2 linked regions of the Homo sapiens genome follow. The protein of the gene in region 1 purifies or fractionates together with the protein of each later gene. This does not show direct contact. Each region holds a gene or a part of one and is shown on either strand. Other genes may lie near its edges.

Region 1 (3,754 bases):
AGCCACCATGCCTGGCCAAGGGTAGGTTTTAACCACTGCTTCACAAAAGACATTGAGGCTCAGGGAGGTGGTCATTTGCTTGAGATTTGAACCCAGGGCGACTCTGATTCTAGAACTTGGAGAATTAACCACTGCATTCTACTGTATGTCTGATACAAGAACCGCGTCTTCTCACCCTCAGTCAGTTGTCAAGGCCACGGTTTTCTCCTTCTTCCCCTCTGGGGGACCCATTTTTGTTCCTCTGCCTAACTCCAGCCCTGCACCCCAGCCACTGGCCATCTCCGTTTCTGCCACACTTTTTCTCCCTTCTCTCCCCCTCCCCCGCCCCTCCCCCCTCCCCTCCGCTCCTTTCACTTCCCTACCTTCTCTCTCTTTCTTTCTTTCCTTTTCTTTTTGTGACAGAGTCTCACTCTGTCCCCCAGGCTGGAGTACAGTGGCACGATCTCAGCTCACTGCAACCTCCACCTCCTGGATTCAACTGACTCTCCTGCCTCAGCCTCCCAAGTAGCTGGGATAACAGGTACCTGCCACCATGCCCGTCTAAGTTTTGTATTTTTGGTAGAGACGGGGTTTCACCACATTGGTCAGGCTGGTCTCGAACTCCTGACCTCAAGTGATCTGTCTGCCTTGGCCTCCCAAAGTGCTGGGATGACAGGTGTGAGCCACTGTGCCCGGCCTGCCACGCACTTTCTTACTGGTTTTCCCCTGCTCTGCAGTTGTCCTAGGTCCTGCCTATTCTCAATCTCTTCCTGTCTTCACACCTTCTGAGAGTTAGCTCTCTCCTCTGACCTTCAGCTTCAGACTCCAAGCCTCCCCTGACCCTCCGCCTCTGCTCAGTCACCTGGGACTTTCTTGCCTTTGCTTAGATCACAAGTGTCTCCCATGCTCTCCTCTCTGTCTCCCTTGGAGACCAGCATTCCAAGTTCTCAGGCTCACCTCTTGCAGGAAGACCTCCCAGATCACTTCAACCCACAAAACCTGCTTACCTCTACCTATTTAGAAAACATGGATCAGACGGGTGCAGTGGCTCAGGCCTATAATCCCAGCACTTTGGGAGGCCGAGGTGGGCAGATCTCCTGAGGTCGGAGTTCAAGACCAGCCTGACCAACATGGAGAAACCCCATCTCTACTAAAAATACAAAATTAGTCAGGCGTGGTGGCGCATGCCTGTAATCCCAGCTACTCCAGAGGCTGAGGCAGGAGAATAGCTTGAACCCAGGAGGCAGAAGTCGTGGTGAGCCAAGATTGCGCCATTGCACTCCAGCCTGGGCAACAAGAGCGAAACTCTGTCTCAAAAAAAAAAAAAAAAAAAAGAAAAAAATACAAAAATTAGCTGGGCATGGTAGTATGCACCTGTCATCCCAGCTACTCAGAAGGCTGAGGCGGGAGAACCGCTTGAACCTGGGTGGCAGAGGTTGCAGTGATCCGAGACCACGCTACCGCACTCCAGCCTGGGTGACAGAGCGAAACCCCATCACAAAAATAGAAAGAAAACATGGATGAAGGGTGTGTGTGTGTGTGTGTGTGTGTGTGTGTATGTGTGTGTGTGTGTTTTAATGAAACCACAGTTTTTCAGTGTGTAAGTTTGTTGCTTTTTTTTTTTTCTCAGCTCACTGCAACCTCTTCCTCCTGGATTCAAGCGATTCTCCCACCTCAGCCTCCAGAGTAGCTGGGACTGTAGGTGTCCGCCACCACGCCCGGCCAATTTTTGTATTTTTAGTAGAGACGGGGTTTCGCCATGTTGGCCAGCCTGGTCTCGAACTCCTAGCCTCAGGTGATCCACCCTCCTCGGCCTCCCAAAATGCTGGGATTACAGGCATGAGCCACCGCGCCTGGCTGAGTTTGCTGCTTTTTGAATCATTTGCCCCCTGCAATAGTTGAGAGTTGAATATGACCTCCAAAATGGGTCATCAGAGAATCCAACAACTGAGACTACTAGCCAGGTAATCTTGGAATAAGTCATTAAGCTCCCATGAGCCTCAGTTTTCACCTCTGTACATCAGGGACGAGGACAGTGCACCTACCTCAAGGGATGGCGTGTGAATCAATGAGTTTTAGAAAATTCACTTAGCTACAGACCAGATCTTTGGGTCTCCCTCTGTCCCTGGTCTCTCAGAGGATCCTCATGTTCCTTCCCAGGCTGCATCCAAGGGTGGTCCAGCCCTGCGCATTGTGACCCCAAGAGCTTCCTTTGTGTAATGATACTGTCACAATGACCACTCAGCACCTCTAGGGGCAGCCGGGAGGAAAATTAGCAGGCAGGCTTGGTGCGAATACTGCCTCCTTAGAGCTCCAGGAACCCAGGCAAGTAATTGACTTTTTGGAGCCTCTGGGGTTTTGTTCGGTTGGTTTTGTTTTTGAGGTAAGCTCTCGCTATGTTGCCCAGGCTGGACTTGAAGTCCTGGGCTCAAGCGATCCTCTCGCCTCAGCCTCCCAAGTGGGTGGGTCCACAGGTGTGTGCCACCATGCCTGGCTAGGACTTAGGTTTTGTCATCTGCAAAAGGGGACTAATGATGGTAGCCAGTTCAGAAAGCAGTGTCAGTATTGAGGATTTGATTAAATAGGCTGCTGGTGTCCATTATTATTATCATCCTCTAAAGTTTTTCTGTCCCTCTACCTTCTACACACCCCACACAGAATGGACCCACTTCCCTGAATCACTGCACCTCTTGATATTATTCTAGGGCTCACAGATCTCCCTTTAAAGGGGCCGGTCACCCCTCCTTCCCCAGTCAAAGACCACCAGGAATGTACCTGTGATTGAACACATTCAAGCTTATTATTCATCAGAGAGAGAGAGAGAAAGAAAGAGAGAGGGAGAGAGAGCTCATACATGTCATAGGGCACTATGGCGGTCTCAGTAGGGAGGTGTTAGAAAGAACTTTTTTTCGCTATTTATTTATTTATTTATTTATTTGAGATGGAGTTTCGCTCTTGTTGCCCAGGCTGGGGTGCAGTGGCACGATCTCAGCTCATCGCAACCTCCGGCTTCAAGTGATTCTCCTGCCTCAGGCTCCCGAGTAGCTGGGATTATAGGCATGTGCCACCACACCCAGCTAATTTTGTATTTTTAGTAGAGATGGGGTTTTTCCATGTTGGTCAGGCTGGTTTCGAATTGCCGACCTCGGGTGATCCGCTCGCTTCAGTCTCCCGAAGTGCTGGGATTATAGGCGTGAGCCACCACGCCCGGCCAGAAAGCACTTATTATGGGATTTGCAATTCTGCTCGGTGTTTTGGGGGCACAGCTTAAGGAAGTAGGGGATTTGGGTGGGATGAATTTATTGGTTGGAAATTTTACTTTCTTTTTTGAGATGAGCAGATAAAAACAAATAAAAACAACACACAGGTGAGGCATGGTGGCTCACATTTGTAATCTCAGCCTCCCAAAGTAGCGTCCAGAAAAGGGCTGTTGTGGCTTGGTGTGGTGGCTCACGCCTGTAATCCCAGCACTTTGGGAGGCCAAGGTGGGTGGATCACTTGAGGTCAGGAGTTTGAGACCAGCCTGGCGAACACGGTGAAACCCTGTCTCTACTGAAAATACAAAAATTAGCCGGGCGTGGTGGCTCACGCCTGTAATCCCCGCTACTCAGGAGGCTGAGGCAGGCGGATCTCCTTTGGTCAGGAGTTCGAGGCCAGCCTGGCCAACATGGTGAAACCCTGTCTCTACTAAAAATATAAAAAATAGCCGGGTGTGGTGGCGGGCACCTGTATTCCCAGCTACTCAGGAGCCTGAGGCAGGAGAATTGCGTGAACC
Region 2 (3,654 bases), on another chromosome or scaffold:
TTTAATCTAGGAGCCTACTAATAAATTGTATGCTGCAGTAGTTCCCAGGTATATTTTCCCCGAAATAAATTTATCAAATTTCAGAAAACGATAGAAAAACTTTTAAAAATGTGTCTTCATTTTTACCATTTTGTAAATAACTTTTCCTTAAAAAACAGAAAGAACTTGTGAAAAATTAGCCAAGATTTTTATGAGCAAAGATTGTTTTTCCAAAAACACAAAATTTCATCCCCAAAGAAAAAAATACTAAGCAAATATAAGCAAAGAGGCAAACCAAAAAGATTCTCTCCTCACATTAAAGCACATAAATCTTTAAAATTGAAAGACACAGAGATCGTTTTTACTCTATAATAGCACTGACACATAGTTCATAATGACTGAAGGAAATCATCAGACAGTATCAAATTGAGGCTGCTTACAAAAATCAAGGTTGTCAAACAGGCATTCTAATAGGACTTATTTCACAAAATAAAAAGTTTAGCCAATTCTTCCAAACATAGTCATAAGATATACAAATACTAAATTCGGCCAGAATTTTTATCACAAAATTACTTGATAATCTTTGTGTAAAATTTTATTAACATTAACTTAAAAAGATAATCAGATTCTCATTGTATGTTCAGTCCTATACAAAGAACCACAGGTTCCCTGTTTGTACACAAAAATCTATAAATTCAAAAATCCTTTAAGACCAAATTCTACAGAAAAACCCTCAAAATGTTTAAAATCCTGGTAATAATAATCGTAAGGTATACCTTTAACTGTTAACCATGAATTGCATCCTGGCTACACAGACAAAATGGACCTAGCTGCCTTTTATAAAACGTTCAGTAATGCTGTCCACTAGGAGGTTAAATGCTGGGGTGGCCAAAGCCATCATTCAGTCCTGAAATCTACCCTAAAGTCTAAGAAGAGTTCCCCAAGAGGTAATAACAGGAGGTTAAAAAAAAAAAAAAACAGTCACCAGGCTTGAATACATACTTGAGCACACAACTGGTGTTCTTCTTTTTCTATATTATTTTTCAACTTTGAAAAAAAATTAATCAAAAAATTGATAAACTATTAATCATAAAAAATACTTATTTTAGATCCTGCAACTAACAGAAAGTAAAATTTTAAAAGGATATGAGGTCCAGCAATGAACTGTGTGTCCTGTCATTCATACACAGCTGGGCTACCATCTCGGCCCTGAGAATCTCATCATCAGACATTCCTAAAATTATTAAAAACGGAATTAACAAATCTGAGTATACATAAATTATAAAGAAAAAAACTTACCACACTTTTTACTAAGCTGTTTTACCAAATATAAGATGCTTCAAATTAAAGAGTAAAGAAGCTATGCTCCAAACATAACTGCAGTTTAACTGCTGTTTGCAGTTCCCTTAAGCAAAGGATATTCTAAAAGGTATACCTACAGTACAACATATCAAGAGTTTGAAACATTGTTTACATTTATCTACATCCTTTCCTTTTTTCCCTAAGCCAGTTACTACCACAGGGAGGGGGAGAAAGGGAGGAAAACAGTTAATGCATAAGTATTAGTATCAGTGAGTTTTACCTAAATGTAAACGAAGACTCAAAAGAATCACAAGAAATGTAAGAGCGCCTTCTAACATCGACCTCTCATGCTCTGCATCAAGTACTGTATTTTGATGTTGTGATGCCATTGTCAACAAATCCACTACCTTAAATCTACAAGAAGAAATATTTGAAACATATTTTTATAAATTAAAACAAAATTAACTGGACACTTCCTAATACCTGTCTTAATAAAATTATGCCTACCTTTCAAAGACGGATGAAATAAAATAATCTGGGTCAAGTCTAGAAGCACAAACCTTTAAAAGAAAACAAAATGCTTTATTTCTCAATATTCAGTTTTCCTTCTTCTATTAATCATGTTTTTCTATACTTTTTTTTGTTTTTTGTTTTTTGTTTTTTGTTTTTGAGACAGAGTCTCACTCTCACCCAAGCTGGTGCAACCTCAGCTCACTGCAACCTCCACCTCTGCCTCCCAGGCTCAAGCAATTCTCATCCCCCAGTCTCCCGAGTAGCTGGGATTTACAGGTGTGTGCCACCACACCTGCCTAATTTTTGTATTTTTAGTAGAGACAGGGTTTCGACGTGTTGGCCAGGCTGGTCTCAAACTCCTGGCCTCAAGTGATCTGCCTGCCTTGGCCTCCCAGAGTGCTGGGATAACAGGCATGAGCCACCACGCCTGGCTATGATTTTTATTTTCTGTATATTATGATGTTTTGACATCTTGAGGGGCATTACAGACCTGAAGACAGATAGTCCCTCCCAGAGCCAGTTAATTCCTGAACATACTAAACAACTTACTTGGGAAAATGCCTGTCATGCAAGCCAACCACTGTCTTTATCTAACTCTCACACATCAACCCAGTATTTCCCCTCCCCTAAATCAACCCAGGGCCAGGTACCGCAGAGCCAGATACAGCCCCTATGCCTCAAAGCCTGCTGGAATTATTCAAATTAGCCAATCCTGCCTTGCCTTTCCTTGCCTTTCCTGCAGAAACCCCAATAAAGGCTCTGGCCTAGGCTCTCCCCTCACTCCTTTCTGCCTCTTGACCAAAATCTGGTGCTTTCCTTGTAGCCTTGTGTTGGGTGGTATGCCTCTTCTCCTGGGAAATGTAAGTAAAAAATTATTCTTTCAATGGCATTGGCCTCTCCATGTCATCACGCAGTCACCTCTATAAATTAAAATCCCTTGGGTACAAATGAGACACTTCTAAAGTATATCTGCATTATCTAGCTGGCTTACCTGTAACAGGTAAATGTCAGGATCAATCATGGAATTACAGAAATGAGACTGGACATACGTCATGGCTTGTCCTTTGATTTGCAGACCATTTCTTACCCACATATTGCTGTGGATTTCTGCAAGACTTGCCTAATAAAAGTAAATTGGACAAAGAATAAATTATCTAAATGCAATCTTTACAAAATATTATAAATAACCATTTCAAAATATTTAATGATGTGATCATAGTATAAGCCCGATATTCTGTCCAATGTTAAAGATAATCAGTTGAAATATACATTTTTACATTTTTTTTAACAATAATTATGTTTTTACATAGCCACTTTTTTAGAGTTTAAACAAATGAGTTGGTTTTCCATGTTGGCCTCTGGATACATTTATGATGATTTTCACTGACATCTTTCATAAGAAATCAATGCTTATGTTTCACTCTATTTCTCCCTCAAGAAAACCCTAAGTAACAACAACAACAATCCTAATATACATGTTTAAAGAAAGACACTAGAATAAGCATAAAATAAAACCAACTGTTCAAAGTCAATGAATACATTCTACATCTTTAATTCACCCTAACTCAATCTTAAATCTATACTGCTAATTTTCCAAATATTGGAGGTTAGAATAAATGTTCTCACTACATCAGTATTTAATTCTTCATGTATTTATGTCCAGTGTCAACTAAAACTAGGCAGTCATCATTTTTTTTGTTTTTTTTGAAACAGAATCTCACTCTGTCGCCAGACTGGAGTGCAGTGGCGCGATCTTGGCCCACTGCAACCTCTGTCTCCCAGGTTCAAGCAATTCTTCTTGCCTCAGCCTCCCGAGTAGCTGGGACTACAGGTGCACGCCACCATGCCCAGCTAATTTTT

What was found. Proteins that work in one complex are often made in the same cells at the same time.
Region 2: the proteins of SAXO5 (region 1) and UBR3 purify together in Homo sapiens (affinity purification with mass spectrometry; 2 studies listed by BioGRID and IntAct, with this or other methods). This does not show direct contact.

The regions. Positions count from the first base shown.
Region 1 is NC_000019.10:7,495,953-7,499,706, reverse strand, and holds the start of SAXO5 (stabilizer of axonemal microtubules 5), read right to left. Parts: upstream 2,160-3,754; 5' UTR 2,025-2,159; intron 1-2,024.
Region 2 is NC_000002.12:169,924,879-169,928,532, reverse strand, and holds part of UBR3 (E3 ubiquitin-protein ligase UBR3), read right to left. Parts: intron 2,915-3,654; coding exon 2,786-2,914; intron 1,842-2,785; coding exon 1,789-1,841; intron 1,696-1,788; coding exon 1,562-1,695; intron 1,214-1,561; coding exon 1,128-1,213; intron 1-1,127. UniProt on the Homo sapiens protein: E3 ubiquitin-protein ligase which is a component of the N-end rule pathway. Does not bind to proteins bearing specific N-terminal residues that are destabilizing according to the N-end rule, leading to their ubiquitination and subsequent degradation.